4 linked regions of the Homo sapiens genome follow. The protein of the gene in region 1 interacts with the protein of each later gene in a biochemical or structural test. Each region holds a gene or a part of one and is shown in the gene's direction. Other genes may lie near its edges. The genes, in order: PRKCE, UGT1A7, GAD2 and ADAP1.

Region 1 (7,349 bases):
ATGGGGAGCCGAGCCTGCCCATCTGGCCTCCCAGCCTATTCTCCCTGCAGATCCATGTGCTGTGTCCCTGACATTTTTATTGTACTTGATAACTTCATCTCTTTTGCCTTATAGCAACTGTGAATTAGGTATGGCAGGTATTGGACAAACTAAAAAACTTGAGATAGAGAAGCCCAAAGTCTGAAGGATGAGTCAAGCAGTGGAGCAGGTTCAGAATGCCCATCTGTTTTCACCAGAGGATGCTGTAGCCACTCTGGTTCCTCCAGGCTGAAGGTGGGGACTCATTGGCAGGGGTGACTGGCCCCTGGAAATGGAGACAAGTTGCAGCTGGGCTAAGTTCACCTTTCCCAGTCTTAACATTCAGGGTAAACCCATGGTTTCATAGCTTTGGGTAGAATTCCCTGGGCTCAGGTCTCTTCACTCCTTACCTGGCAGGAATGAAGAAACACACCCTTCTCAGGTGTGGCTGAGAGATCTGGCCTGAAGTAAGGGGATGTGGATAGCATAAAGCAGCCGTTTCTCTCATTTTTGCGGAACACCGAATTCTGCCGCACTTTGAATTCACTTGTATTCCTGGAGTTCCTGTTTTGTGCTCATGTCTAACCAGGGAAGCTTCTCACTGTGGGCCATCCAGAGGAAAATGAGGCCCTGGGTTACTCTCAAGGGGCTTCCATTTCACCAAGGAATTGACACCAAGTACCCACATATACATCAAGCTTGTCTAACCCATGGCCTGTTAGCCACATGTGGCCCGGGATGGCTTTGAATGCAGCCCAACACAAATTTGTACACTTTCCTAAAACGTTATAAGTTTTTTTGCATTTTTTTTTTTTTTAGCTTATCAGCTATCATTGGTGTTAGTGTATTTTATGTGTGGCCCAAGACAATTCTTCTTCCGATGTGGCCCAGGGAAGCCTAAAAGTTGGACACCCTGATGTAGACACTTAACTAGCAATTAGGTTCCACACAGGTGGTACCATTAGTGTGTTAAGAGTTTAAAAAGGGAGTGTGGGCTAGGCACTGTGGCTCATGCCTGCAATCCCAACTACTTGGGAGGCTGAGCTGGGAGGACCGTTTGAGTCCAGAAGTTCAAGATCAGCCTAGGCAACGTAGTAAGACTCCATAACTACAAGAAACTTAAAAATTAGCCAAATCTGGACCTGCGGTGTGGTGTGTGCCTGTAGTCCCAGCTACTCAGGAGGCCAAAGTGGGAGGATTACTTGAGTCCAGGAGTTCAAGGCTGCAGTGTGCTATGATCTGACCATCAGGCCACGGCATTCCAGCCTGGGTGACAGAGTGATACCCTGTCTCTTGAAAAAAAAAAAAAAAAAAAAAAAAAGGTAGGGAGAACTGGAAGAATCCAGGAGGGTTTTTGGAAGGAGGCATGAGCTGAGTGTGAAACAGTAGGTTATATTTAAAGAGGTATCTACAAGAAGGAGCAGTGTTCCTGGCATGGCCACCGCAGGAATAAAGGCAGACAATCCTGTAGTCAGGGTTGGAGAATGGATGAGCAGGACAGAAACTGAGTGTACCTGTCAGAAAGGAGTGGGCAGGACAAGGTTTCCCAAATTTAAGACTTTTTTCTGAGTACTGCCTGTGCTTTCATTTACTTAATATTTAAAAAATTGATTCTTTTATTTTCCACGTAGTCTTTTCTTAAGCCCCACTATTCATGAAATCACAGGTTTGGAGCATGTAGTTATAACTTTTCTTTGTTCACATTAAAATAAACAGGGCTCTACAATACAGAAACAAAGTTCATTCCAAGTGCCTCTGAACATCATTAGTGATGTGGGGCCCACACTTCGGAAACATTGGAGTAGGAAAAAGTTTAGAAAACTGAGGTGAATTCTAGAATGCGTAAAAGCCAAGCTGAGATAATTATTCTCCAGATAATGAGAGATGTTTCAGTTGTGATGACAAAGGAGGTTGCTTTAGAGAAAGCTCATTACAAAGAGAAGGAAAGATTTTGCTGATGCTTTGAAGTAAAATCTATTATAACACTATTGCTATAGCTGGGTTTTCCAAGAACCAGTTAATAACGCTACTCAGACTTTCATGTACATAAGAATCAGTAAGGGAGGGCATATAAAAGATAGATCTATATAGATTTATATAGATCCATATAGATAAAAATATAGATCCTCTGGCCCAACCTTGAGAGCTTTTGATGCTACAATTTGGAATAAGCTGGGAATCTACATTTTTAACCAGCTGTCCCAGAGATTCTGACCAGACCAGGCTTGCTTTGAGAAACATTGGGCTAGAATAGAAATTGCAGGCCAGAGAGGGCTCCAGATAATTAATGGATCAAGCATTTTTACATAGATATGTCCTGAAATGTGACTGTATAACTTTATAATTTTTAAAGAAAGATTTAGAATAATAATTGTGTGAACTAGAAGTATTGGGATTCATGTTAGAAGCAGAGGCTGAATGAATGCTGGATGGATTGGCATTGCATTTAGCACAGGGGTGGGAGGCAGGCGGAGCAAGGATTAGGGCTTGAAGGGCTGCATGCAGGTGACAGCTAGCTGGCTCGTTCACATTTTGGATTTTTCTCTATCATTGCTTCAGTAGTCTACACACTGAGCTCAGTTTCCTCTTTGTTCTACTGCCCTGCCTCTGAAGACATCTTTGGCGAATGTCACTCCCTTGCTGTATTCTGTAGAAGAGGCAGGCACTCAGAATCCAGAGGTACAGAAAGCCATCATTTGAGAGGTGATTCCCCGGAGCAGCGAAGTCTGGAGTCACACTGCTTGGACTTGAATCCCACTTCTACCATCTACCACTTTCATGACCTTTAGCGAGTGACTTAACCTTCCGTATTTCCATTCCTTCCCCTGTACAAAGTGGGTGATAATAAATATACCTCCCTATAATGAAATGGGTTTACTGTGGGGATTAAAATGAGTTAATACATGTACAATGCATACACCAATGCTTGGTCCCTAGTAACTGCTCAATGCATATCTACTATAATTATTATTATTATAGCCCCCAAAATGAGCATGGGGCTGGCCTAGAGAGAGTTTTTGACTGAATTGATTATTATATAGGCCACGAGAAAGCTAGGTTTTCATATTCTCCAAAGTAGCTCTCTTCAGTCTGGCCATCTCATTTGGCAAAGAATGGGACACTAGAAGTGTCATTTCTGGTTTGTATTTCCCAAGTAGCCCATCGGCAAAGCTTTTCAAAATGATGGCACCCCTGCTGACTCTGGGAGATAGGCCTATACCCTGTTTGGACTCTGGGAGATAGGCCTGTACATCATTCGGAGAGGTTAGGCTCTGAGGCCGTTCTCCCTTGGCCCACCAGAATCACTTGGGGGAGATTCATGCAACACAGATGCCAGGGCACAGCCTCTAGCAGTGCTGATTCTGATGCCCCGAATGGAGCCTGAGTTAAGCAGGACCCCTGCTGCATCTCCTACAATGGCAGCCTGACCGCACTTTGATATATGTTACTCTAGAGCACATCTCTATCTTCAGGACATTTGTAGGAAAAAATTTTTTAAAAGGATTTCTGAAACCTCCATTGTCATTTAAACACAGTGGGGTGGGAAGGGACTACTAAGGGGGTAAGGAGGTAGGGAAGGGCTGGCAATTGTCCATACCTCCTTCGTGTGCGCCTATACCCTGAATTATTTCCCCAGCAGCCAAGGGTCCCTGGATCTCCCTTTCCCCTACTCCCATAATACCATGTAATCCAATATTGCTCTCATTGGTCCATAGCTGGTTGTTTAACAACTACCCAAAGGATTCATTCTTGGCCCAGTGCTATCACAGACAACCTCTTGGCATTGGGTCCCTAGAGTTAAGGACCTGAGTTAGCCTTCAACTTCATGGACAGTCAAGCGTTGTTTGAACTGTTTCTTCTTCTTAGTGTCTTTGACCAGCAGCAGATTTAGTGAATATTTGAGACCCTGAATTCCCTGGCTCCTCAATGGACCGCTCTCCCTGGATTCAGTGAGTTCTAACTGGAAGGCATCTCCACCACTCACTAGTTGTGTGACTTTGAGCATGTGACTTAGGCTTTTTAAGCCCGTTTCTTCATCTGTAAAATGGAAATGTCGTAGGTCTTGACTTTCAGAGTTGCTATGAGAATTAAATAAGGAACTATAAAGCTTGTAGCAAGTGGTCTGGCTATAATACATTTCAGCAATTTTATTAATATTTGAAGAGTCATTTGTGTGTTCATAGTTTTAGAATCTTAAATCAGAACATATGGTCCAGTGAAATATATTTTTCTCCTTGATTTGTGAATGTATTTATATGAAAAGTCTTACATACTCTAAAAATAAATTTGACTTAGTTATACTTAACAAATTGCCCTTTGGAAGATAATAGAATTACTTGAAATGAGATTGTTCTGGAAAGTCTAGAAGCTGCGGTCATTGTAGACAAAGGTTAATTATTTATTGAAGAGGTATGGGTAATTGGAAATGAGGATATTTGGGAGCTGGTGTTTTGGTTTTACTGTGCCAATGTCATCTAGTTTCATGGATTTAAATACACTTTCAGTGCTGTTGACACTAAATTCCTAATTCCAGCTCATGCCTGACCCTGAACTCTAGACTTTATATATGGGATTGCCTTCAGGTCCTCAGCTTTCATTGTGTAAAGGGCATCTTAAACTCCATATGCCTAATATTGTATACCTATTTTCCCCTCTCCTCAATCTAAGCCCTTCTTCCTCAGCTTAAGAAATGGCAACTCCATCCTTCCAATTACCCAGCCAAAAACCTTGAGGGGCCATCCTTGACGCCTGTAATTCTCAGGTGCCCCATATCTTATCCATCAGCAACATCTGCTCTTTCTGCCTTCAAAATATATCTCAGATCACATCCTTTCCATACCTTTGCTGACCTCACTTGGGTCCAAGTCACTATTATCTCACACCTGGATTATTTCAACAGCCTCTGAATTGCTTCCACCTGTCCTGGCTTCTCAGCTCCTGTCTCTGCTCACAGATCTCTCAGGTGAGATTATCCCTTACCATAATTTACAAGACCAACAAAGTCAGGCCTTCTGCTGTGACCTCTCTGACCCTATCACTTGCCACTCTTCTCCCTGTTCATTCCTCTCTAGCTATCCTGACCCACTTGACACCCCTTAAATGCACTTACCATGCTCCTGCCTCAGTCTTTACCCTTGCCATCCCATTTTTTTAGAATGCCCTTTTCCCAGATATCCACATGGCTCAAGTCTTCGCTCAGATGTTATGTTCTCAGTAAGGCCTTTTCTGGCAATCCTATCTAAAAGTTCACCCTCTTATTTTATGCTTCATATGCGCCTTTCCTGCCTTTTTTTTTTTTTACTCTTTACTCTTACCTCTATCTGATACGCTATTTAGTTTTCTTATTTATCTTTGTTGTTTATTTCTAATACCAGAACACCAGACGCTCTATAAATGTAGAGCTTTTTGTTCACCGCTTTATCTCAGCACCCAAAACAGTGCCTGGCACTTTGTTGAATGAATGAATAAATTGTTGAATGAATGAATAAATTTCTTGGCACATTGTTGAATGAATGAATGAATGAATGAACACAAAACAAGTGTGTATTTCTATAGTACCTACTATGGTCTAGCACTGTTGGTAGATATGGGGTTTGGTAACACAAAAGTTGTGTATGTGTAGTTCCTGCCTCTGAGGAGCATGGCATCTCGATAGAAACCAGTTGAATGAATTTCTTAAACAATCCTTCTGTACAGTTGAAAGAAGTGAGGAGGAGGAGGAAGGAGAAAAGGATATTTTATTTTATAAAAATCTATGAGATCCCTGAAGATGTTCTTATGAGAGAATGCTATATTATTTCCACATAGCAATTTGCATCAAGCTGAAGAATCTCCGTCAAGTCTGAATTTCCCAAAAGTAGGAATTTTCTACCCTCTGAGTGCCCAGGGCCCATTCCAGGTGCCATGGTGAGGGAAGAAGAAAAAGGCCCACTTGTCCTCCATTTGCAGAGTTTAAATGAAGTTCAAATTCTCATCAGGGCTTTAGATACAAAACCCTTTGTAGTTGGCAGCAACAAGAAACGAAATTTCAAATTCCGGCGCCTGAACTCATAGAGCTATTGAAGCATGTTCAGACAAAGCTTCCAGGGGTTTCACTTAGGCTAAAATAACTCCAGAGCAGGCCTGCAATATTTTACATAAATAAAAGCTACACTTGGCAAAACATTATATTTCTCTCCAAGTTCCTCTGGGTATATATGGGCTTGTTAGTAATTACAATCTATTATAATGCTAATCAGCATGGTTGCACCTGTTTGAGATTTAGTTTTCTGTCAGAAACCATGTGAAGTGGCCAAAAGTCTGTACTGTGCTGGGAGAACCAGGAGGACAGGAACATACAATTCATCGTAACTCACTGACATCTAAACAAAATTGAAACTCCAGAGGAAATATAACTGAAATCTGTAATACTGTGCTGGGGAAGAGGAGGAAAAACAGAAGCCTATCATGAAACCCAGATGCTGAAATGAGGATCTCCTCTCTCCTCATCCCTGACCTCTACCCCACCTTGAAGTCTCAAAGAGGTAGTTTTATGTTAGTGAAAAGTCACCTGTATTTGCCAGCAAGGAGTAGACTCACTGAGCTCCTGACCCCAAGAGATAGATAAGACTAAAAATGTAATCAAGCTTAAGAAGAGTTTTTTAAAATTTGAGATGGAGTCTTGCTCTGTTGCCCAGGCTGGAGTGCAGTGGCATGATATCGGATCACTGCAACCTCTGCCTCCCGGGTTCAAGCGATTCTCCTGTCTCAGCCTCCCAAGTAGCTGGGATTACAAGCATGAGCCACCACACCCGACTAATTTCTGTATTTTTAGTAGAAACAGGGTTTCACCATGTTGGCCAGGGTGGTCTTAAACTCCTGACCTTAAGTGATCCACCCGCCTCAGCCTCCCAAAATTCTGGGATTATATAAGAGAAGTGAGCCACTGCGCCTGGCTTCAAGAAGAGTTTTTTTTGTTTTGTTTTGTTTTTTGTTTTTTGTTTTTTTTTTTTTTTTTAGAAGGAGTCTCGCTCTGTCGCCCAGGCTGGAGTGCAATGGTGCCATCTTTACTCACTGCAAGCTCCGCCTCCCGGGTTCACACCATTCTTCTGCCTCAGCCTCCCGAGTAGCTGGGACTACAGGTGCCCGCCACCACGCCCAGCTAATTTTTTTTTTTTTTTTTGTATTTTTAGTAAGGAAGGGGTTTCACCATGTTAGCCATGATGGTCTCAATCTCCTCACCTCATGATCCACCCGCCTTGGCCTCCCAAAGTGCTGGAATTACAGGCGTGAGCTACTGTCCCCAGCCTAGAAGAGTTTTAAAAAATCATGATGAGTGAATCTAGAACTAA
Region 2 (7,687 bases), about 190 Mb from region 1:
AGCTAGCTAGAGAAAAGAAAATGTTATTAAAAAACGTAACATATGAAAAAATGCTCAACATCACTAGTTACCAGAAAAATGAAGATGAAAACCACAATAAGATATCATCTCACACCAGTTAGAATGGCTGTTATTAAAAAGTCAAGAAATAATAGATGCTGGTGAGGCTGCTGAGAAAAGGGAACACTTGTACCCTCTTGGTGGGAATGCAAATTAGTTCATCCCCTGTGGGAAGTAGTTTGGAGATTTTGCAAAGAACTTAAAACAGAACTGTCATTCGACCCAGCAATCCCATTACTAGATATATGTAAAAAAAATCGTTTTACCAAGAAACACATGCACTGGTATGTTCATTGCAGCTCTATTCAGAATAGAAAAGACATGAAATCAACCTAGGTGCCCGTCAACAGTGGCTTAGATGAAGAAAATGTGGAACACATACTCCATGGAATATGCAGCCATAAAAAAAGAATGAAATCATGTCCTTTGTAACAACATGGATGCAGCTGGAGGTCATTACCCTAAGGGAATATATACAGGCACAGAACACCAAATACCATTGTTTTCACTTAGAAATGGGAGCTAAATAGTGGGTACTTTTGGGCATAAAGATGGCAACAATAGACACTATGGACTCCTAAAAGGGAGAGGAAAGGCTGCAAGAGTTGAAAAACTATTGGGTACTATGCTCAGTACTTGGGTGATGGGAGCAATCATGCCCCAAACATCAGCATCACACAATATACTCAGGTAACCTGCACATGTACTCCTGAATCTAAAATAAAAGTTGAGTATGTATAAGAGGAAGTCATTCATCATAAAGGTCTCCATCCTCATCATCTTCCATTGAGTGGGCTGTGGAGGAGGAGGAGTAGATGTTGATTTTGCTGTCTCAGGGTGGCAGAGGCAGAAGAGGTAGAGGAGGTGGAAGTGGAGGCAGGAGAGGCAGGTGCACTTGGTGTAACCTTATGGAAATACATCATAATTACTGTCTGTTTTTTTCTCTTTGATGTATTTAAAAATGCTTTTATACAGTACTAATCCTTCTTCCCCATTTGCTTTAGTTTCAGTGCCCATAAGGGTTCATGTCTTAATAGAAGTCAATAGCAGTCTTAAATAATTGGAAGCATTTCTATGAGGCTTGTATTGTGTAAGGCCAATTTTTTTTCTGGCACTGCTTCTTCTACATCTTCTTTCTCATCAAGTACTGATTGGAAAGCACTCATCTCTATCAGGTCATCTATTGATTCCCTGAGTGTGGCATCTATTGGCTCTTGAATTTCTCCAAGAGTCATATTTTGAAATACCTTATCCCCAACATTTTGTTGCTGTATCCATAATCCCTTCATGACTTCCTTGATTGGCTCTGTCATAAATCCTGTGAAGTCATGTGCAACATCTGGTCACAGTTTTCTCCAGAAGAAATGTACTGTTTGGGGCTTGGTGGCTTTCAAAGCTCTTTCTATAATAACAGTGGCATCTTCAGTGGTGTAATCCTTCTGGACTTTCATGACATTCTCTATCCAGATTCTCTTCCATAGTATTGACAACCTTTTCCATAGAAAACTGTGTGTAATGAGTTCTAAATTTCCTTAAGACACCTGATTGAGAGACTGAATTAGAGATGTTGGGTTTGGAAGCACGTAGACCATTTTGACACCTTCAGTGTTGAACTTGTGGGTTCTGGGTGGCTAGGGAATGGTCCAATATCGAAAGAACTTTAAAAGACAGTCCCTTGCTGGCAATGCATTTTCTGCCTTCACGGACAAAGCCTTGATGGAACCAATCCAGAAAACGCGTTCTTATTGTTGAGTCCTTCTTTTTGTACAACAATAAAACTGTCAGTGAGTGTTGATCTTTTCCTTTCAAGGCTTGAGGTTTGGCAGTTCTACTGATGAGGGCAGTCCTGACTGTAAACTTGACTGCATTTACACAAAACAGTAGAGTTAGCCTATCCCTTCCTGCCTTACATTCTGGTGCTTGGTTTTCTTCCTTGCCAATAAATGTCTTTTGTGTCATCTTTTTTTTTGTTTGTTTGTTTTTGTTTTTTCCAGAATAGGGCACTGTCATCTGTATTAAAACCCTGTTCAGGCAGATATCCTTTGTCCTCAATGCTTTTCTTCATGGCATCTGGGAACTCATCTGCCTCCTTTTGCTTGGCAGAGGCTGGTTCTCCTGTTATCTGGACAATTTTAAAGCCAAACCTCTTTGTAAAACTAGCAAACCATCCTTTGTTGCCATTAAATTCTCCAGTTTTAGATTCTTCACCTCTCTTTTGCTTTAAGTTGTCATAAAATGACTTTAATTTTTCTCAAATCACATTGGCATCTATAAATAAGCCTTTCTTATAGCAATCCTACACCCACATTAAAGTTGCATTTTCAATATGAGACAAAAATGTATTTCACAAAAAGATGCGAGGTTTGGCTCCTGCTGGCATAGCTGCAGCAATGTCTTCATGAATCTTTTCTTCTCTTTTCTTTCTTTCTCTCTCTCTCTTTTTTCTTTTTCTCTTTCTTTCTTTTGCAATGGTCCTTATCTATCTTCATTGATTTTGAAATGGCAGGCAATCATAGCGGCAGAGCTCAATCTACGGTACCTATCAAGTAATTCAAGTTTTTTTGGTAATGTCATGATTTTTCTTTGCTTCTTGGGAGTACTTGCAGCATCATTAGTTGCACTTTATAGTCCCATGGTGGTATTCAAGGTTTAAAAAATTACACTAAACATGATGAAAAATACAGTAGAACCATAAGAGATCATTTTTTACTCTGACATGCAATTTACTAGAGAGAAGAAACGCGCAGAGGGTATAAACGTCATATCACATGCATTTAGGCCACACTTTAGCTCCCTGCAATAGCAACAGGAGGTAGCAACAAAATTATTATAGTAGTGTAGTATGTACTAGAGGAAAGTGACTAAGCAAATGTCTAGTACCAGTTAGGGTGTCCTGGAAGGAACCATCTTGTGCTTCTACAAGAATTATGCCCTGAGGTTGGCTGTTGAATCCCTCACGAAATGCTCCTCAGTGTGTTGCCTAACACACACTGCTGAGCTCACCCATTAAAATCTGCATGATGGAATTCAGCCCAATGCAATGAGAATTCCCATGGACTTCCTCTGTGCAAGGCAAAGCATGGGTGCTGTGGAAGGAGGATGAAAACAGGTAGAAGATGTAATCTCATCCTCAAGGGGTGCTCGGTAGAATGGAGGAAACAATACATAGATTCCTGAAGATGAGCACCAAAGTGATTGGGGTGGGCCCATAGCAAAGGCCTGCAGCTCTGTTCAGAATGCAGAAGCAGAGTGGGCAGAGAGAGACAGCTCATTAGAGTGCTTGGGCAAGCATAGGGACGGCGACTCACCACTGCAGACAATGTATCTGAGGAAAGCCATTTAAAATAGGTGACAGTCACATTCCATCAAATTTCTGGAAGGGTCCATGGAGGCAGGGTTGTCAATCTCATTACAGCATTTCAGAGGCCTCAGAAGATTTGGAAATGAAAAAAGACAAGCAGCACTTGTGGCTCACCTGTGTCACAATTGTGGCTCACCTGTGTCTCTGCAATGCGCAAGTGAGCTGTGTATTGCAGAGACACAGGTGAGCCGCAATTTCCTCCCAGTTAGGAGGTCAACGCTAAGACCCTTGCTCTCTTTCCGTCGAACATGAGATGCCAATTTCTTTCTGGGCAGAGGACAAAATAAAAATTGTCTATAAACTTTGGCCAGGTGTAGTGGCTCACGCCTGTAATCCCAGCATTTTGGGAGGCCGAGATGGGCAGATTGCCTGAGCTCAGGAGTTCGAGACCAGCCTGGGCAACATGGTGAAACCCCGTCTCCACTAAAATACAAAAAGTTAGCTGGGCATGGCAGCGTGCGCCTGTAATCCCAGCTACTGAGGCTGAGGCAGGAGAATCGTTTGAACCCAGGAAGTGGAGGTTGCAGTGAGCCTAGATCTTACCACTGCACTCCAGCCTGGATGACACAGTGAGACTCCATCTCAAAAAAAAAAAAAAAAAAAAAAAATTGCAAATTTTTCTTTGTGACAAATTCCAAAATTATTAGCTTCGTTCAAATTTACTTTCCTTTTTATCTTTCAATGTCGTCAAGGCCAAAAGCATTGCTTAATAATTTTGTTTCTAAACTCATATTGCAGCACAGGGCATGATCTGTCCCCAAGGCAAAGATGATGAGTTACTCTTTTCTTGAAAACATATAAGCAGGTATCTCAGCAAAGGCTACTCATGTATTATTATGAGTAAATCATTGGCAGTGAATGTGAATTTTTTTTTAAATGAATGAATAAGTACACGCCTTCTTTTGAGGGCAGGTTCTATCTGTACTTCTTCCACTTACTATATTATAGGAGCTTAGAATCCCAGCTGCTGGCTCTGGGCTGAAGTTCTCTGATGGCTCGTGCAGGGTGGACTGGCCTCCTTCCCCTATATGTGTGTCTACTGCTGACCTGTGGCTTTGCCAAGGCAGGGAAGCTGCTGGTAGTGCCCATGGATGGGAGCCACTGGTTCACCATGCAGTCGGTGGTGGAGAAACTCATCCTCAGGGGGCATGAGGTGGTCGTAGTCATGCCAGAGGTGAGTTGGCAACTGGGAAGATCACTGAATTGCACAGTGAAGACTTACTCAACCTCATACACTCTGGAGGATCAGGACCGGGAGTTCATGGTTTTTGCCGATGCTCGCTGGACGGCACCATTGCGAAGTGCATTTTCTCTATTAACAAGTTCATCCAATGGTATTTTTGACTTATTTTTTTCAAATTGCAGGAGTTTGTTTAATGACCGAAAATTAGTAGAATACTTAAAGGAGAGTTGTTTTGATGCAGTGTTTCTCGATCCTTTTGATGCCTGTGGCTTAATTGTTGCCAAATATTTCTCCCTCCCCTCTGTGGTCTTCGCCAGGGGAATATTTTGCCACTATCTTGAAGAAGGTGCACAGTGCCCTGCTCCTCTTTCCTATGTCCCCAGACTTCTCTTAGGGTTCTCAGACGCCATGACTTTCAAGGAGAGAGTATGGAACCACATCATGCACTTGGAGGAACATTTATTTTGCCCCTATTTTTTCAAAAATGTCTTAGAAATAGCCTCTGAAATTCTCCAAACCCCTGTCACGGCATATGATCTCTACAGCCACACATCAATTTGGTTGTTGCGAACTGACTTTGTTTTGGAGTATCCCAAACCCGTGATGCCCAATATGATCTTCATTGGTGGTATCAACTGTCATCAGGGAAAGCCAGTGCCTATGGTAAGTTATCTCCCCTTTAGCACATTAAGAATAATCTGGCTTTGGAAATTAAAAGATTTCTTACAGAATCATAATTTATCATTTACATTTGTCCCATTTGGAATTTCTTTCTGGTTTAAGGAATTCTTTTGTACCAATTCACTTAATTGTTGGGTAGCAAATTGTATAAAGCAGCTCTTGTTGATATGTAAGTGTATACAATTGATATAATTGTAGATCATATCTAGGCTGCAATCTAAATGCTATTTTTGGAAAAATACAAAAAAACCACAGTAAGAAATGAAACTTCCCTTTTTTTGCTAATTCTACACTACCCCCAGAGGAAAATATTCTTAGCAGTTTTGTGTGAATTGTTTTCAATTTTTTTGAAATTATACTATGTATATGCATATATTTAGGGTAAATTGTCACTTCTATTTTATCAATATAAAATCTACTATCATGCTGGCTATGTTTTTTTATGTTAGATTTTTCTCTTGTCAATAAGTTAAAGATATCTTTACAGGTCAATGCATACAGATTTGACATGTTCTTTTAATAATTGCATGGTAGTCTTTACTTTGGATGCAATGTAGTTTTCCAACCAATTAAGATTGATAGAGATTTAAGTGTTTTCCACTTTTGGGGTTTATGAGCAATAATAAGAATTCTTGTATACTTTCTTTACATTATATATATTTTCATATTTTTGCTTTTATCTCAGTAGGGTATCATCCTATGAGTATGGTTGCTTGGTTTTCACTAAATGAGTGAGATTGGCCTTCTTTTGCTATTACATCTTCCTACTCAAGAATATGAATCCCTCATTATTTATTCGGATTCTGTTTTATTTCCATAAATAAAATTTTGCACTTTATAAAAGTATTTCATCTTTCTTATTAACCTTTATTCCTCTGCATTTCATTATTTTTGAAACCATTATGTGCAAGGCAATTTTCCCATTTCTCTTTTGAATTCACTATGCATAATTAATGTACTGCTTTGAGTTTTACACATTTATCTTGTATGTAGTCATATTACTAAACTCTCGTATTAGTATGTAAGGTGTATTAAGTATGCAATATCATCTGCAAATTATTCCCTCCCCTGGTATTTATACCTCTTATTTTGGCGGAGCATATAGTTCCAAAATATTATTAATATTGTTGGTCTAGCCAGCTTAAATTAGGATTTGGTCACTTGCAATTGAAAAAGTCGTGACAAATACAAGAGTAAGATTCTTGGCAAATGCATAGTTGCTAAATCCAGGTGAAACACCTGGTGTCTGATCTAAGTATATTATTTTGTTAGGGATGGAGTATACATTTTTATCTATTGTTCTGGCTTCTTACAAAGTTCAGTAGACTTTGTAACACAGTCACATTCTCTCTCATATTGGCAGATGTTTGGTGAAAGAGTGACTGTTCAACCAACTCATGGGAAAATGCAACCAAGCGCTTTCTAAAAATCAGGGAGACTACAGTTGTAGGCCTTTCAAATGAAACATGACTTTCAGCTCTTGGCAAGACCAGGCGAGGAGATGCAAGTTGTAGGACGCTAAGAGGATAGACTTGTCAAAGTGTCTCTCCCCTGTTTACCCTCCATCAATTACAGCACCAGCCATCACTCAGGTATTGCCTGCAGCCTCACCCTCTAGCCAAGTGTGTGGCCTGCCACTTTCTGAACCCATGCTGAGTTTGTTGTGGCTCAAAGGGTCACCCAAAGGGATTTAGAGATGTAGAAATTATATATGATTCTATACCACCTATAATGGTATATGATAGAGAGATCTATAAAATATGAAACATTGAGCCATATATAGTTTTACATATTTTGGTTATTTGTATATCTTCAGTGGTGTATAAAATATATGCATTTATATGCCTTTAAGGAATATACATATGATAGGATTTATAGATGTGGAAGGTTATGTATTAATGTATATATTTATAAATAGAAAATAAATATAATTATCAAAGAAGAATTCAGATCATAAAGAGTGCCCTTTGGCAAAGAGCCCTGGATATGGCTCAACCACAAAAGTAAATTGTCATAGAAAAATTTATGGACACTGTATAGTGTTCCTTTCTTGTTTCATATGGGCAGGGTGTGTCTTGGAAAAGTATACAGTTTTTTGTACCTTGTTAGACAACAGGATTCATAGTCTGCATTTCATCTGTCTGATGAAAAGAAAGCATTGCTTGATGATGCAGTGTGTGTGTATGTGGTGTTTGTGCACGTATGTGTCTGTATGTGCAGGTGTGTTTGTGTGCAATGTCTTAAGCTCTGCACAGGAGATTTTTTTTCTGAAAGGTTTCCTATAACAAAATCTTATTGAGTCTATCCAGGTGAATTACATCCAGGGATGTAATTAAATACTTTAACAAGGATGGTAGATCATCATTCAGGAGAACATTAAAACGGTTTTGTTTTGTATTTTT
Region 3 (7,349 bases), on another chromosome or scaffold:
GTGCCTACCGTTGACTCTCCTCTTACGGAGTTGGCCTTTCATTTTGTCTGCATTTTATTAAATAATCCTAGGACCTAATGATTATTTCCCAATGTTGACAGATTTCTACGGTGGCTAAAACTCAGTAGCTAACAAAAATAAGTAAATAAACTTAAAATTACATCTCCCCCCCACCTTTTTTTTTTTTTTTTTGAAATGGAGTCTTGCTCTGTTGCCCAGGCTGGAGTGCAGTGGCGTGATCTCAGCTCACTGCAGCCTCCATCTCCCAGGTTCAAGCGATTCTCCTACATTCCCTTTTCAGGCCTGCAGGAATAACTTCATTTATAACAACCAAGGTTTCATAGCAAATCTCTGTGTTTGTATGTAGTCATACAAATAGTCAGTTTTCCTTGTGGTTTTTTTATGATTAGCTTTTCTAATTAAAAATGTGGATAACAGAGGGACTGGCAAATGGCTGTGAAAAAAAATACCAGGAAAAAAATATTAAAGGGAAATGGACATCTGGCATCCTTTGCTGAAAATGAATGTTTACTTTCTCTCTAAAATATTAATTTATTTTAACAAGTAGATATTCAGCATCTATTATCGTGTCTAGTACTGAATGGGATAAGAAGGCTCTCATTTTCCAGACAAGATAAGATAAATGCACAGAAATCCATCATAAAAGACAGATTAGGACTGATCACAAAAGAAATCCAGACACATCTGGGGAATTTAAAGGACGGAGAGCTCATTCCTGGTTTAAGAATCAAGATGATTCACAAAGAGATGACCTTTGAGATAGGACTTGAACAGGATAGGTAGAAGAAGTAGGATTTCACCCAGCAGTGCTGTGAGAAGGCCATTCCACGGAGTGGTTGAGCAGGAGTTCAGTGCATATTATGAAAGTGAGGGAAAGTCTAATTGACTGAAGGGCGACTTGGGAGCTATGTTCCAGGTGAAAAGTAACAGAGCCTGAACTAGGGTGATAGCAGCAAAAATTGAGATAACAGCAAGGGATTCGGTAGTTATTTCAAAAGCACTGTCTCTGGGGCCTGTGAATGTTTATAAAAGCATTTCAAGAAGTGGAGAATGATCATGACCAGCTCTCAAGATGTCAAACCCCAAGACCACATAGAGGCAGCAGCTGAACACTTGGATGGTGAGATTGCTGAAGTATTTAATGAATGAAAGAATTTTGAAGAATCTCCTAAAAGCCTTCAAAACCTTGAAAATAAAATGTGGATCTTAATCCCATAAATATTCAATATGAACGGGAGGCACCCAGGGCACACTAGAGTTTTCTGTGTCATTCCCCATGTATATCTTTAGCCCCCAACTAAAGGGGCAGTCACATGGCCCATGATCATCCCCATAGCAAGGTCCCAGACCAGGGGAACCAGAGGTCTTTAGTAATCCCATTGCTGTTGCAGTGCAAACTCTTCTTCATGGGAAATCAGAGAGGCATCATCATTCCCATCTGATCAGAGAGTTGGCCAAAGCCATTCATCTGGACAGGGTCAGAGGCAAGCTGGTCATGCCATATCCTAGATCAGATATGCAAAAGTTTAAACCCAACTCCAGACTGGTCCAAAGGATCCAGGTTGGAGAAGAGCAATTAGCTTCCCTCACTTCTACCTACAGTCCATCCCAAGTGAACCCAAACTGTCAGGTCATTCCAAACCAATTATAATCTCCTTAGCACCCATAGATGCAGAGAGCTCCTGGTATGGGTGCTGGCCAAGCATCAGGCATCAGCCCAAGCTCTTCTTGGGGAGGCATCAGGAACCCATCAGCCTCCTTGAGCCGATTACCTGGGGGAGCAGTCTCCAAAGAAGTGAATTTCTGAACCCATTTGATATCTCCAGGGCAGCTTGTTCTTAAACCTGCTTCAGATGTCACAAGTCACTGGGCTATGTTGGGCCCCCTTAGCTGAGATGATGTGATCTTGTATGAAACAGGCAAGTGGGCCCATCTCATCTCCATTACAATTGCTTTCTCTAGGTTCTCTGCTGGAGAAGTTACTGGTAGGCAGGTTCAAAGTGCTTCTGAGATGAGCACTGGCTTTTACTCTTAAGCTTTCTCCATCAGCACCCAGTAAACACCCAAGGAGATAAGAGGAAAGCCATTTTGAAAAGTAACTCTCTTGTGTGTCCCGATGTCAGTTAAACAGCTCCAGTCCAAGACTGTTGTGTTGGTTTTCCCAAGTCTGGATTCAGAGCTTCCAGAGCCAGAAACTAAAAGAAATCAGTGATAATGTTCACCCATTACAGACACGTGAGTCATTTATCTGCCCCCAAAGGAGAACTGTACAGAGCTCGACAGGCTAACAAAGCATCTGGGTGCTCCCTAAAATTCCTGCATCCATTTGTTCAATGAAGTCAGTGAGCACCTACCCAATTTTTTCTGTATCAGGTACACTGGCAGACAAAGATGGGCTCTGGGAATGGAAAATGTGCACGTTGGAGGGGAACTAAGCAGGCATTCTGGGGGGTCTCTGGTGATGCTTTTTATCTGCAGGAAGAGAGTAGCTCAGCCCTCCTGTTATTAATGACTTCCATGATTATTCCTATGAATAGCAGAGGCACATTTTCCTCTTGAGTAGTCAAACTAATTGCCTGGGGAATGGAGGCTCTGGAAGAAAAGGAGTTCCGTGTAGAAAGCAGTAATGAAAGGGAACAAAAGCACCTGACGGGGAGAGCATTGAAGAGAAAATAGCGCTGAAAAAGCCTTTGGAAACAGCCTTGTGTTGAGAAAGTGCCAGACGGGGCTAAGACAGAGACGGCAGGATGACGGTCAGTCTCCAGGGAAATCGCTTCCTCCGCACTCTTAGCCTGCTTAATGAGCTGTGTCCTTCTCTTACCTAGGGGACTACCGGGTTTGAAGCGCATGTTGATAAATGTTTGGAGTTGGCAGAGTATTTATACAACATCATAAAAAACCGAGAAGGATATGAGATGGTGTTTGATGGGAAGGTATGTATTTGGATTTCTACAATCTCAGAAAGTTTAGTCAATTCCAACCCTCATCACTGATATGATGTAAATGATGTGCTGTCCAGGTAAGTGGGACGATTACAGAGGGGAGCAGTGGATGACGGGGTAGCTATTCCAAGCTGGAATAAAGACGAAACTCTCAAAGTGGTCCATATAACGTTGTCAAAATCATGCCCTCCAATGGCAATTCCTGATTGAAAAGTGGGAATTGTGTTCTGAACCTGCTGAATACATCGATTTGAAATGTTCTTGGAATTTTCAAAATTGCCAGCCTGGGCCAAATGTGAATCTTCCTTTCCTCTTTGTAGCCTCAGCACACAAATGTCTGCTTCTGGTACATTCCTCCAAGCTTGCGTACTCTGGAAGACAATGAAGAGAGAATGAGTCGCCTCTCGAAGGTCAGTGCTCCAAGCTCCTCTGATACATGTGTGTATTGAGCCTTTCATGTGCACATCTTCTTTATGACATATGCCTGTGGCCTTAGGAGACAGCCTACCTGGGTACATGGGCCCATTCCCGTCTGTGGACTCCTACAGAGCCAGGACATATAGAGCCTGATATATGCAGACATTTTTCTTCTTTTTTTTTTTTTTTTTTTTTTTGAGATGGAGTCTCACTGTGTCTTCCAGGTTGCAGTGCAGTGGCGTGATCTCAGCTCACTGCATCCTCCACCTCCCGGGTTCAAGCGATTCTCCTGCCTCAGCCTCCCGAGTAGCTGGGAATACAGGCACTCACCACCACGCCCAGACAATTTTTGTATTTTTAGTAGAGATGGGGTTTCAATATGTTGGCCAGGCTGGTCTCGAACTCCTGACCTCAGGTGATCTGCCCACCTTGGCCTCCCAAAGTGCTGAGATTACAGGCATGAGCCACTGTGCCCGGCCTATGCAGACTTTTAACAACTCTATTTGCTTGTTTTCTGAGAGTGAGTTTATGATGTCTTGAAAGAAGTAGTCAGGCGATAACCTTTGCTGGCATTCACAAAGCAACAAGGACGTTGCTGAAGTTCATTGATGTTCCAAGTGAAACTGGTGCTCAGTTACAAGCACAAAAGAGACTTTAGGTACCAGAAATGGTTAGCAAACAACGCTGCTGCTGACCCTCTTGAGCTGCCAAGGTCAAGGCTACCCTGGGTGTGTCCTTAGAGCTGTGGTGACCCCTAGAAGGTAAGAGGGCAAAGAGCAATAATAACAGCCACTGTTTTGAGTGTGCATTGTGTCCCAGCTCAATATCAGGTGTTAGGTCACTTAAAGCCTCAGAGCAACCTGACATGGGAAGGATTGTCCACCCATCTTGCTGATGGAGAAACTGACCCACAGGGAGAAAATGTAACTCCCAAAATCTCGCAGAAAGTCTGCATCCGAGCCTAAGGGCTTGAGCTTTAAATGGTACTGTGGTAAGACACCATTAATCTTTCATCCTCTCCTGCTCCCAGCACTTATACATGGGTGAAATGGGGTTTACAGTGCACATCGAAGCGGGGTATATGCAGGACCTGTCCCCCATTCGAAACTAGGGATGGTCATGTAGACTTGGATCTCAGAGTTGATTTGGTTGGTTTGGGGGTTCTTTTCATTTATCATAAAAGAGGGAACCTCCTCCAGTCACTGCCAAGAGCCCCGCAGGCTGTCCCCTCACTGCTCAGGAGCTTGGGCTGTCTCACTGACCTTTGGGAACACTTTAGTTCCTTCTACGTAAAATGAAGAAGAGGATTTTGTGTAGATATAAAACCTTCACTAAAGCTTTTATGTGTTAACATCTGTCCTTAAGCAACCCAAGATCAAACTCCTCATCGGGAGGAAACTTCCATATGGCTGAGGTCTTTAAACCAAGCCTCCTAATTAGAGTAGTGATTTGCAATCCTGGCCATACATTAGAATCATCCAGAAACTTCATAAAAGACACTAGTGACCAGGTCTCACCCTGAAAATGTAATCAGATTGTGCTTGGATGGGCCTGGGAATGATTCTGGAAGTTATCTAGATGATTCCAATGTGCACCTCAGCTAGAGAACCCCTGATCTAGAGGAAAAAATGGAAGAAAGCTTCTAGAACCAGGATCCGTGGTGCATGTGTCTGAGATGGAAGGGGCTGTGGTTGTGTTTGATGATTTCGTGAAGTTGGTTCATTCCAGGAAATCAAGCCCACAGGGTGGGAGGGAATGAGTAGAGGTCGCATTGGATAAGATGATCGGTGCAGGCAATAACAACGAGAATAGGGGGTGCGGGTGTCTGCTGTCATTTGAGAGGAAAAAATTCTTATTTTTCCTGGAATTTTTATGGTATACCTTCATAATGTAAAATTTCTTAACAATGACTTATTTAACCAGTTAGAAATTAGATGCCTCCATTCTTTTTGGCTTTCACTTCCTTATTGAACTGACTGGCCAGAAAGAGAATCCATGGACTAGTTTGGCTGATTTCATTTGTTGAATCAGTCCATTATCACTGGGCTGAGGGATGGAGCAAGATGGGAATACAGAATAAAAACTTTTTTTTTTCATCATTTTCTGAACAAAAGTCAACTTGGAGGCTCCCCCTTTTAAATATCACTCTTCAAATGCCTCCTAGGTTTCAGCACCTCATATGAGCTGTAATGAAGAATGGGGATGGAGATTATTTCCTGGAGATGGCAATTAGAATATTAGTAAACTGTTTTTATACTGTTGACAATTCAAATATGAAAATCTCCGGGGATTGCAGAATGAATTCTCCTGATTTTTCTCCAATTTTATTACTGTAATCAAGAGAATTCAGCAATTCAGATTTGGAAATGAAAATAGAACCACATGAATACCAAGTTTAACTTTTGTTCACGTATGCCAATGATTTTTTCAGACTTTCTGGAAAGTTCTTTATTAAGTGTGACGCCCTTAAAGTATCATGTCCAGGAACCAGTAAAATATTCATACGCATGCACACACACACACACACACACACACACACACACACACACAGTCCCAGAGGGAAAAGAACTGAGGTGAAATAATCTATGCTGTCCAGTATGGTAGTAATAGCCACATGTGGCTATTCATATTTAAATTTAAATCAATTAAAATTAAATTCAACCAAAAATTTGGTTCTTCAATCACACTAGCCACATTTCAGTCACTCAACTTGTGCCCAATGGCTGTTTTATGGGACAGTGCAGATATAGAACATCTCCATCACTGCACAGAGTTCTGTTGGTCCAGGCCGATATAGACTCAAAATTTGGGGAAATGCAGAGTTTCCTGTGCAGTTTATGTGAACCAAAAGAACAAAGTTAAATTCTGGACAAGACAAGGCAGAGAAATTACTCTGTACCATCTTGCCTGATTCATAGCTGTAGTGCACAATAGGAACTCAAAAATCGTTTGTTGAGCTAAAATTGTATCTTAGCGTGGTTGAGCTGCAAAAACAGACTAATATAGACTGGGTAGCTTATAAGCACAGAAATTTATTTCTCACTGTTCTAGAGGCGGGGAAGTCCAAGATCAAGGTGCCAGTAGATTCCGTGTCTGCTGGAACCCCTACTTCCTGGTTCGTCAATGGCCTTTTTCTCCCTGTATCCTCACATGGCAGAAAGAGGTCAAGGGAGCTCTCTGGGGTCCCTAAGACTGTGCCTTCCTGAACTAATCACCTACCAAAGGCCCTATCTCCTAATATCATCACATTGAGGGGTTAAGATTTCAACATATAAATTTTGGGAGGACAGAAAAATTCAGTCTATAGCAAATACCTTAGGCATATTCCAGAATAAGGAAGGGAAACAACATTTAGGAAACCTAATAGTGGCTCATAAGCCTTTTTCCAGAGTGCACTATTTGGGGACAAATATCTGGATAACAGAAGTTATTAATAAAGCAAATACAGTCATATCTTCATGAGGGTGGTAAACACGAGAATCCAGTCAGTGTGCTTCCTGCTGCTCTGTCAGGACTATGATCTTGCAGATGGCGCTTTGTCCCTGAGGCAGTGCAGATGATGAATGCTTGGGGCACTATGAGGATGTGACGCCACACACATGCCTTGGACACAGGGAGGGGCAGCAAGTGGGCTGTGCCAATGTTTACCAAACAAGAATCAAAAGGGCTGGTCTATTGATCACCTCTTGTGTTTCTGGTTCTTTATCTTCTTATTTTAATTTTTTTTATTCTTGATCATTATCTGGTTCTGTCAGCTTTTATAGTCCTACACTGATTGGAGGACTTTTCAAAGGTTAGCAGTGGATTTAATACTAAATTTGTAAGGAAGTAGCCTGGACTTATATTTAATACAGACTCTTTGAAAGTCTGTGTTATTAAGTGCAATAGAGGATTTAATTGGTGAAATTTTCGCATATTAGAATTTTTTTTTTTTAAGACAGGGTCTCACTCTGTTGCCCAGGCTGGAGT
Region 4 (8,231 bases), on another chromosome or scaffold:
AAACCCTCGTCTCTGTTAAAAATACACAAATCAGCCAGGCGTGGTGGCTCACACCTGTGATCCCAGCTACTCAGGAGGCTGAGGCAGGAGAATTGCTGGAACCCGGGAGCGGAGGTTGCAGTGAGCCGAGATCATGCCACTGCACTCCAGCCTGGGTGACAGAGCGAGACTCTATCTCAAAAGAAAAAAAAAAAAAAGAGAAAAGGAAAGATGCTGCTGAGAACACTCGTGTCCAGGTGCGTGTGGACGTGTTTTCTGCCGTCCTCGGGCGCATACCGGGGAGTGGGTTTCCAGGGTCCCACGGTAGCTCCATGCCAGCCCGTTTTCCAGGGCGGCTGCACCGTCTTACACCCACCAGCGCTGTGGGAGGGGCCAGCTTCCCCCATCCTCACCGGCACTGTCTGTCTGTAAATCCTAGCCTCCCTCCACCGGCCCCCCGCCAGGTCTTCACTGCATCCTGGTGTGATTGGCATTTCCCTGACGACTAATGGTGCTGAATATTTCCGGTGCCTGTCGGCGGCTGTGTGTCTTCCTTGGGGACGCATGTGTTCAGATTCTTTGCCCTTTTTTTAATTGGTTCACTTGCCTTTTTATTACTGAGTTGTATGGGTTCTTTATAAGTAACTGTTTCTTGAGGCTGCACCAATTTGGGTGTGAACTTTGTAAACACTACTGCCCGATGGTCGCTGCGGAAAGGGGCCAGGGCTGGTGGGGGGAGAGCACCTCCCGGGGTCCCGCGTCGGGTCTGGGCCTCCTCCCCATGCCAAGTGCGTGATTCCGGCCCCCGAGGACCCTGCTGGTCCCAGGCCTCAAGAGATGGCACCTGGGGAGACCTGGGCCGTGACTGGAGTGGTCAGGCCAACGCCAGCTGCCCAGCGGGGGAGGAAAGGATGGGGGATGGCAGGACCCCTGCCCGGGCGCAGTGCCCAGCTCCATACCTGCCACCAGCCCGTCGGTTATGGGGATGGCTCTCCACGACCCCCTTCTCCACTCCAGACCCCATCTCTGTTTGGAAAACCAAGCAAAAGATATGTTCAAATGCCCCAAAACCCAGTAAGCCAACCTGTGCACCCACCTCCATGGCATGACATCTTGGGGAGGCCCCTGAGGACTCCCTGCTTCCAAAGGGGTTTCCGGGTCTAGCCCCACTCCCAGAAAATTGTGCTGAGACCACCTCTGGTCCTGGGTGGTTCCCCCTCCCCTGCATTTCGGGGCGCAGTGGCTATTTCTGGGGAATCCCCGTGTCTCCTTTAAGCCCCTCCTGAGCAGAGCTCTTTAGGATCCGTATGCTGCTGAACTCCTACTCCAGGTGCCCGAGGGGTGGCAGGGCCCTCACAGCAGTCAGAAGGCCCAGGAGGGTCTGCGCAGGGCCAAAGGCACGTCGCAGAGGACAGGGTGGAGGCCACAGCCAGTGGGCTTCCCTGGAGGGGGCCGGCCACATGGGGGCCCAACATCACGACCCCCATCCCCACAGCTGAGGCAGGTAGAGCCAGGAGCTGCCCACCCCTGCGCTGAGCCTGGATGTTGAAGACCCCTGCTTGGCCTGCAGGGCGGCCTACTGAGCTCACGGCCATCGTGCCAGACGCTGTCCAAGCGCAGATAATTTGACTGAATTAGCCCCGGCCCCTGTGCGGGGTGGAGAGGGAAGTGAACCTCCACAACCTCCCCTCCCCTGAGGCAGCTCCTGGTTGAGCAAGCTCGGCTGACTGTTGGGCAAGATGGTCGCAGAGCAGGGCCCAGCCCGGCCTCAGTCCATTTGCCCCTTCCCTGGGGAGAGCCCCCTTCTGCCTGTGCTGAGAGGCTCACCCCGCAGCTGCAGGCCTGGGAGGAGCCAGCTTCCAATCAAAGTCGCCTGCTGGCCTACCACGCGCAGGCCCCGTGCTCAGGCGACGCTGGAGGAGCTCGCCCTGCTCTCGGGAGCCCCCTGCCCAGGGTCTGCTGTGTGGCCGAGTGGTCACAGGAGGCGGCTGCCTCTGGCTCTGGACTAGGGAGATGCTTGAGGAATGAGTGTCAGGGTCCCTGGTGCAGCCGTGCGGGTCAGTGACAAGGGGCAGGAGGCTCAGCAGAGCTTGTAGGCCACTGGGCATGAGCAGGAGCAGGCACGCCGCCTGTCCAGGCCCCTCGCCAGCCGCTGCTGGCCGGAACAGCCTTTGACCAGCACTGGTCTGGGTCTGGCCCACCCTGAGCTATGCTGTTACCTTCCGGATTCTTCCTGAGTCCTGGGCTCCCCTACTGCCCCGCCCAGCCCTGACCACAGCCAGTCAGGGCAGCAGGATTTCAGGACGGCTGTGCTCTCGGGTCCAGGCAGGTACTTGCGGATCTCGGCCGAGCAGCCTCCTCTTTGGAAGAATCCCCCTCAGCCCCGACATCTCTTAGATCTGAGGGGTTCACCCACCTCTGTCTCATCCTCACGCCCTCCTGCCCCCCGAGCAATGCCACAGTTCCCTTAGCGGGATGGAAGGACAGAGAAGGCAAGACACTCGCCTGCTGGAGCTGCCCCACGGAGGAGGCCCCGGAACAGCAGGCAGTAGATGGCCTTGGCTTGTGCCAGAAGCTCTGGCCTGTTGGGCACCGGCTCCCCTGAGGCCTCCCTGCTGCCTTTTCTATGCCTTGTATGATGGCCTCCCCGTCTTTGGGGACCTTGGGTAACGGCTATGTTAGGGTGTGTTGCTTTGTTATATTGTTTTATGTATATTCCAGTCCTGAGGTGTGTGGCCTCCAGCAAGGGATCGAACCTCCCCGTGCCTCAGTCTTCCCAGCTGAAAATGGGGCTTTAATAAGAAAATACATGTCGGCCGGTCGCGGTGGCTCACGCCCATAATACCAGCACTTTGGGAGGCCTAGGCAGGCGGATCACGAGGTCAGGAGATCGAGAGCATCCTGGCTAACACGGTGAAACCCCGTCTCTACTAAAAATACAAAAAAATTAGCCGGGCGTGGTGGCATGCACCTGTGTCCCAGCTGCTGGGGAGGCTGAGGCAGGAGAATGGTGTGAACCCGGGAGGCGGAGCTTGCAGTGAGCCGAGATCGCACCACTGCACTCCAGCCTGGGTGACAGAGCAAGACTCTGTCTCAAAAAAAAAAAAAAGAAAAAAGAAAATACACGTCAAGCCAGGCGTGGTGGCTCAGGCCTGTAATCCCAGCACTTTCAGAGGCTAAGGCAGGCAGATCACGTGAAGTCAGGTGTTCGAGACCAGCCTGGGCAACATGGTGAAACCCTGTCTCTACCAAAAAATAAAAATATACCTGGGCATGGTGGCACCCATTTGTGGTCCCAGCTACTCAGGAGGCTGAGGCAGGAGAATCACCTGACCCCAGGAAGCAGAGGTTGCAGTGAGCTAAGATCGTGCCACTGCACTCCAGCCTGGGCGATAGACCAAAACCCTGTCTCAAAAAAAAAAAAAAAAAAAGGAAAAAAAGAAAAGAAAAGAAAAGAAAATAGAAAATACAAGTCAGGCTATTTCTCCTAATACCTAGTGCTGAGCTGCTGCTATTAATGTTCGTCTGTCTTTATTAGGCGACATTCTCCAAGCTCATGCTGTGTGGTGGATTCCGAGCCTGGCACAGGGACCCAGAGATGAAAATGCCACCTGTCCCCACCCCAAAGCCTCCCGTCTGAGGGAGGAGAAAGACCCATGTGAACGGTTACAGGGAAAGAGCACGTGATGCCACAGGGCACAGATCCCAGAGACACAGACCAAAACGGGCTGCCGCGTTCTGCTTCAGGTAGACAGAGCTTAAGCAGCTCCATGATTCCACGTCAGCTGGAGCAGGGGGACAGGTGCCTTTGGTGGCACTCTGGTCAGTGCAGCCTCAGTGGAGGCCATTCCACATCCCATACCATTGCCCCAGCGATGCCACTTTGAGAGCAAATCCACACAAAACTCTTGCAAAGATGAGGTTGTGTAGACCATGATTCTGATGCATTCAAAACGCTCTAAATGCCCCTATGCCAGTGACTGGGTGAACAAGTCATGGTTCAGTTGAACTTTTTTTGAGTTTGTTTGTTTGGTTTTTTTTTTTTTTTTTTTTTTTTGAAACGGAGTTTCACTCTTGTTGCCCAGGCTGGAGTGCAATGGCGCAATCTCGGCTCGCTGCAACCTCTGCCTGCCAGGTTCATGCGATTCTCCTGCCTCAGCCTCCCAAGTAGCTGGGATTGCAGGCATGCGCCACCACGCCTGGCTAATTTCTTTGTATTTAGTAGAGACGGGGTTTCACCATGTTGCCCAGGCTGGTCTCAAACTCCTGAGCTCAAGTGATCCACCCGCCAGGGTCTCCCAAAGTGCTGGGATTACAGCCGTTAGCCAAAACCCTGTCTCGATAAATGAATAAATAAATGAAAGGCTACAGGCCTCAGACGTTCGTTCTGGAAGGTGCTGAGGAATTTGTTAACAGTGGTTGCCTGGAAGGCAGTGGGGAGAGGCTTTCCTTTTTCAGTCTGGTATGTTCCAGTTTGTTTTCAGCCGGGTGTACTGCATTAACCCTGCAAGAAGAAAATGGAAAGAATTTGAAAAGATGCTGGGGTGTGCAGAGGAAGGGCACGCGAGTCTGGGAAGAGGTGACATCAAAACCAGGTTTTTTGTTACCTGTCAGCCCCCATGTGAAGTCCCGGCGGGGCCCCTCAGCCTGCCTGAGTGGGAGGGGTGCCCAGAGGGTCCCATCTGTGGGTGGTGGGCGGCTGGGTGGGTCTCAGGGGGAGGCTCCGTCTGGGCCCTGTGTGGCCTCAGTGCCCTGGGACGCTGGCGTTTGTCACCTGCTGGCCGTCCCTCCCAGGCAGGGATGGTGTGAGCGCCCTGGTCCTGGTCCGTAGCACAGGACACGCACACCTGCCTTCCACGAGCACCCCCATGCCCATGGTCTTGGGGGGCTCGGCAGGTGCCCTCTGCGCCCCCCACAGTAGGTGTGCAGGCTCCGTCCCACCGCGCGCGGCGGCACGAGGGTCCCACCCAGGCCGGCCAGGTTTTGGGGCGGCCTCGCGCCCAGGCAGGTGGGACGCTGCGCGCGGATGGGGGGCGGGCGGCGGGCGATTTCCCAGCGGGTCCCCGGGGCGCGCGGGCTGGGGGCGCCGGAGCGGCCGAGGGAGGAGGCCACACGCTCGCCTGCACCGCTGGGGGCCGCCCGCGGGCCTTGCCGGCCAGAGCGCAGCGTGCGCCCCGGGCCCCGCGCCGGCACTCGCTCAGCGACCGCGGCGGAGACACGAGCGGCGGCGGCGGAGCCCAGAGGGCGGCGGGAATGCGGAACCGGCGCGCGGGCTGAGGCCGCCCGGGATGGCGCAGGGGCGGCGGCGGCGGGCGGCCTGCGCGGGGCCCTAGCGAGCCGGGCTGACGCTCCCGGCCCCGGCCCCGGCATCGGCATCGCGGGCGCATCGCGGCCATGGCCAAGGAGCGGCGCAGGGCGGTCCTGGAGCTGCTGCAGCGGCCGGGGAACGCGCGCTGCGCGGACTGCGGCGCCCCGGGTAGGTGTGGGCCGGGTGGGCGCGGGGCCGGGTGGGTCCGGGGTGGGCGCGGGGTGCCGGGCGGGTCCTGGGTGGGCCCCGGGGACCGGGCGGGGGAGCGCGGACGCCGCGGGGGTGGCGGCGCTGAACACCGGGCCGGATCGGCGCTCGGATGGGGCCCGGGCCCGGCTGCACCTGCGGGGACCCGGACGTCTTCCCGGGCCGGGCGCAGCGGGGGGGCCCCCCCCAGGACCCCCGGAAACCCCCCTGCCGCCGCCTCCCCTCCCCCGCCGGGCTGCGTGTCTGACGGTCACCGCGGACCGCCCGCCGCGTTGCGAAAGCTCGGGCTCCGCACAGAAAGAGGAAATCGGGGCTGGCTGCAGGGAGGGAACGGGCCGCCAGCCGGAGGTCTCTGCTGGGCTGTGGGGTCCGCCGGCTCCGGGGCCACCTCGCGGTGACGTCATGCCTCACGCCCTTCCCGCACCGGGGGTCCCTGGGTGTGAGCGGCGCCCCTGCCCCCGGCTCCCTGCACCTGGCTGCTCCGGGGCGGGCGCCAGGACAGGTGAGGCCTGGGAGAGGTGGGGCCGGACGCAGGTCCTGGTCCACCCGCCGCCCGCCCGTTCGTTCTCCCGGCCGGGCATCCCTGACTCGGTTCCCAGGTCTGTGGGATTTCAAGGCACTGGAGTCCAAAGGCGCGGAGTCCCTCCCTTCCAGGCCACTGGTCCTGTCATTGGCTGTGAACGGGGCCCAGTGCCCAGACCAGCCCTGCCCTGCTCGGGAGCTGTCAGCCCCAGGCCGGCTGCGCTGTGGAGAGAGGGCCCCGCCGGAGCAGTCCCGCCACCCCAGGCACACCAGGAATCTGGGGGCCAATAGTCTAAGCCCCTCGGAACAAACCTAAACTCACCGGCGGTGACTGAGGCCCCCAGGGAGGGAGCGGGGGAAGACCTTGCATTTGCCTCCAAGGCCCTGGTTCAATATGCAGCCTCTGGACACCCCGGAAAAAGGGGTGTCCCTGATTCCCTCTGGGATGGAGGGGTCTCTGCCAGCCCCAGGTCGTGGTGGCTGCTGTCCAGCTGCAGCTTGGCTGGAAAGGCCACATCAGGAGCTGGGGTGTCCCAGAGGGGAGATAGCGACAGGCTTTTCTGGAAAGACAGGCAGGACCCACGGCCTTTCCATGGTCTCCTGAGACAGGACGGCCACAGGGCCCGTGCAATGGTGCGGTGGGGGTGGCCCCCTGGGCTGGCTCACCCCAGACTCTCTCCCCACAGACCTTTATTTCCTCCTGTTCAGGAACGCTCCCCAGGAAAGCCAGTGGGAAAGGGCCTGGCCTGGGGTTGCTGTGGCCCACGGGGAGGGGAGCTGGGCTTGCCTCTGAACCTCTGCTCCCTGGCCACACAGCCTGGGAGCAGCTTCTCTGGACTCAGGGCCCCTCTCCAGCCACCCTCTGGGCCTCCCAGCCTGGCAGGAGGAAGAGGGGACTTCCTTGGCCTGCTGGGTCCTTCAGTGGTCCTCCCCTCCCAGTGGGTGCAGGTGTGCCCGGCCCACCTGCTAAGCTTCCAGCCTGGCCCACCCCAGAGCTGTTCTCTGCCGTCCCTATGCCCCACGCTGCCGGGTAGAGGGCCGCACCTCTGCCTTTTCAGAATCTGTCCATGACCTCAGTGACTTGTCTCCTCTGTCGGGTAGCGCCATGGAGGGGGGATGCTGTGAGGGGTCACTCTCATTTCACAGCCAGGGAGACTGATGCCTTGCAAAGGGAGCTGTCTTAGGGGACATGAGCCACACCCGGCCGCTCTGCTTGTCCCCGCTCCCCAGGGCTGTGGCCACAGGGTGGAACAGGCGGTGTCAGGAGGCAGGGGGCTGCCTAGCCCCCCATGACCCCATGGCACATCCTCGAGGGCTCTATGCTTCTTTGCTGATGCCAGCTGCTCTGGGGCCTCCTGTACCTGCTGTGGCCCAGCTGGGTGACAAGGAGCCACTCCAGTGTTGATGGGGGCTGGGGTGGCCGGCACGTTCTGCTGTCCTCAGAACACTGTCCTGTGCACTGGCTCACGGCTGGTGCAGACCTGGACAGCAGGACATCAGACAGTCCCAGACCACCTCTGAACGCCAGGCCTGGGGCTGCTGGGGTGGACTTGAGCAGGCCCCACCCACTGGCCGTGTGAGGGAAGCAGTCTTGGGGTCTCTGCGGCCCCCACAGAAGCTCCTTCCAAACTCTCCCCATGACCTGTCCCAATAGTGGGTTCCCCTGACCTTGAACAGGGGGCCTCGCCCGGCGGCCACCCAGAGAGCCTCTCATCACAGGCCTGGCAGGTGGGCGAGTTGGGGCGTGCCTGGACCCACTGTCCTGCAAGACCTGGGTGGGGGTCTCCATCCTGGGAGGGGGTTTGGGGGAGGGAGGGGTGCCTCCGTACATCCTTGGAGCTGCCTGCCAAATCGCAACAGAGGACAGGGACCGGGCGCGGTGGCTCACGCCTGTCATCCCAGTGCTTTGGGAGGCCGAGGCCGGAGGATCGCTTGAGGCCAGGAGTTGGAAGCTGCAGTGAGTCGTGATCACACTCCAGCCTAGGCCAGAGTGAGACCCTGTCTCAAAAAAAAGAAAAACACACATATTGTCCTCTTTGAGTCTCAGGCCATCTGATGCCCCGGAAGGACTGGGGTGTCTGAGCTCTTTTGTTCTTTTTTATTTTAAGGTCTCGCTCTGTCACCCAGGCTGGAGTGCAGTGGCACAATCTCAACTCACTGCAGCCTCTGCCTCCAGGGCTCAAGCAATCCTCCCACCTCAGCCTCCTGAGTAGCT

What was found.
Region 2: of the proteins of PRKCE (region 1) and UGT1A7, one has a biochemical effect on the other in vitro, tested with the Homo sapiens proteins (one study listed by IntAct).
Region 3: of the proteins of PRKCE (region 1) and GAD2, one has a biochemical effect on the other in vitro, tested with the Homo sapiens proteins (one study listed by BioGRID).
Region 4: of the proteins of PRKCE (region 1) and ADAP1, one has a biochemical effect on the other in vitro, tested with the Homo sapiens proteins (one study listed by BioGRID).

The regions. Positions count from the first base shown.
Region 1 is NC_000002.12:45,654,533-45,661,881, forward strand, and holds part of PRKCE (protein kinase C epsilon type), read left to right. Parts: intron 1-7,349.
Region 2 is NC_000002.12:233,677,526-233,685,212, forward strand, and holds the start of UGT1A7 (UDP-glucuronosyltransferase 1A7 precursor), read left to right. Parts: upstream 1-4,375; 5' UTR 4,376-4,412; coding exon 4,413-5,267; intron 5,268-7,687.
Region 3 is NC_000010.11:26,289,619-26,296,967, forward strand, and holds part of GAD2 (glutamate decarboxylase 2), read left to right. Parts: intron 1-2,846; coding exon 2,847-2,954; intron 2,955-3,283; coding exon 3,284-3,373; intron 3,374-7,349. UniProt on the Homo sapiens protein: Catalyzes the production of GABA.
Region 4 is NC_000007.14:951,620-959,850, reverse strand, and holds the start of ADAP1 (arf-GAP with dual PH domain-containing protein 1), read left to right. Parts: upstream 1-5,170; 5' UTR 5,171-5,373; coding exon 5,374-5,455; intron 5,456-8,231. UniProt on the Homo sapiens protein: GTPase-activating protein for the ADP ribosylation factor family. Binds phosphatidylinositol 3,4,5-trisphosphate (PtdInsP3) and inositol 1,3,4,5-tetrakisphosphate (InsP4). Regulates the incorporation of CD63 and CD9 into multivesicular bodies.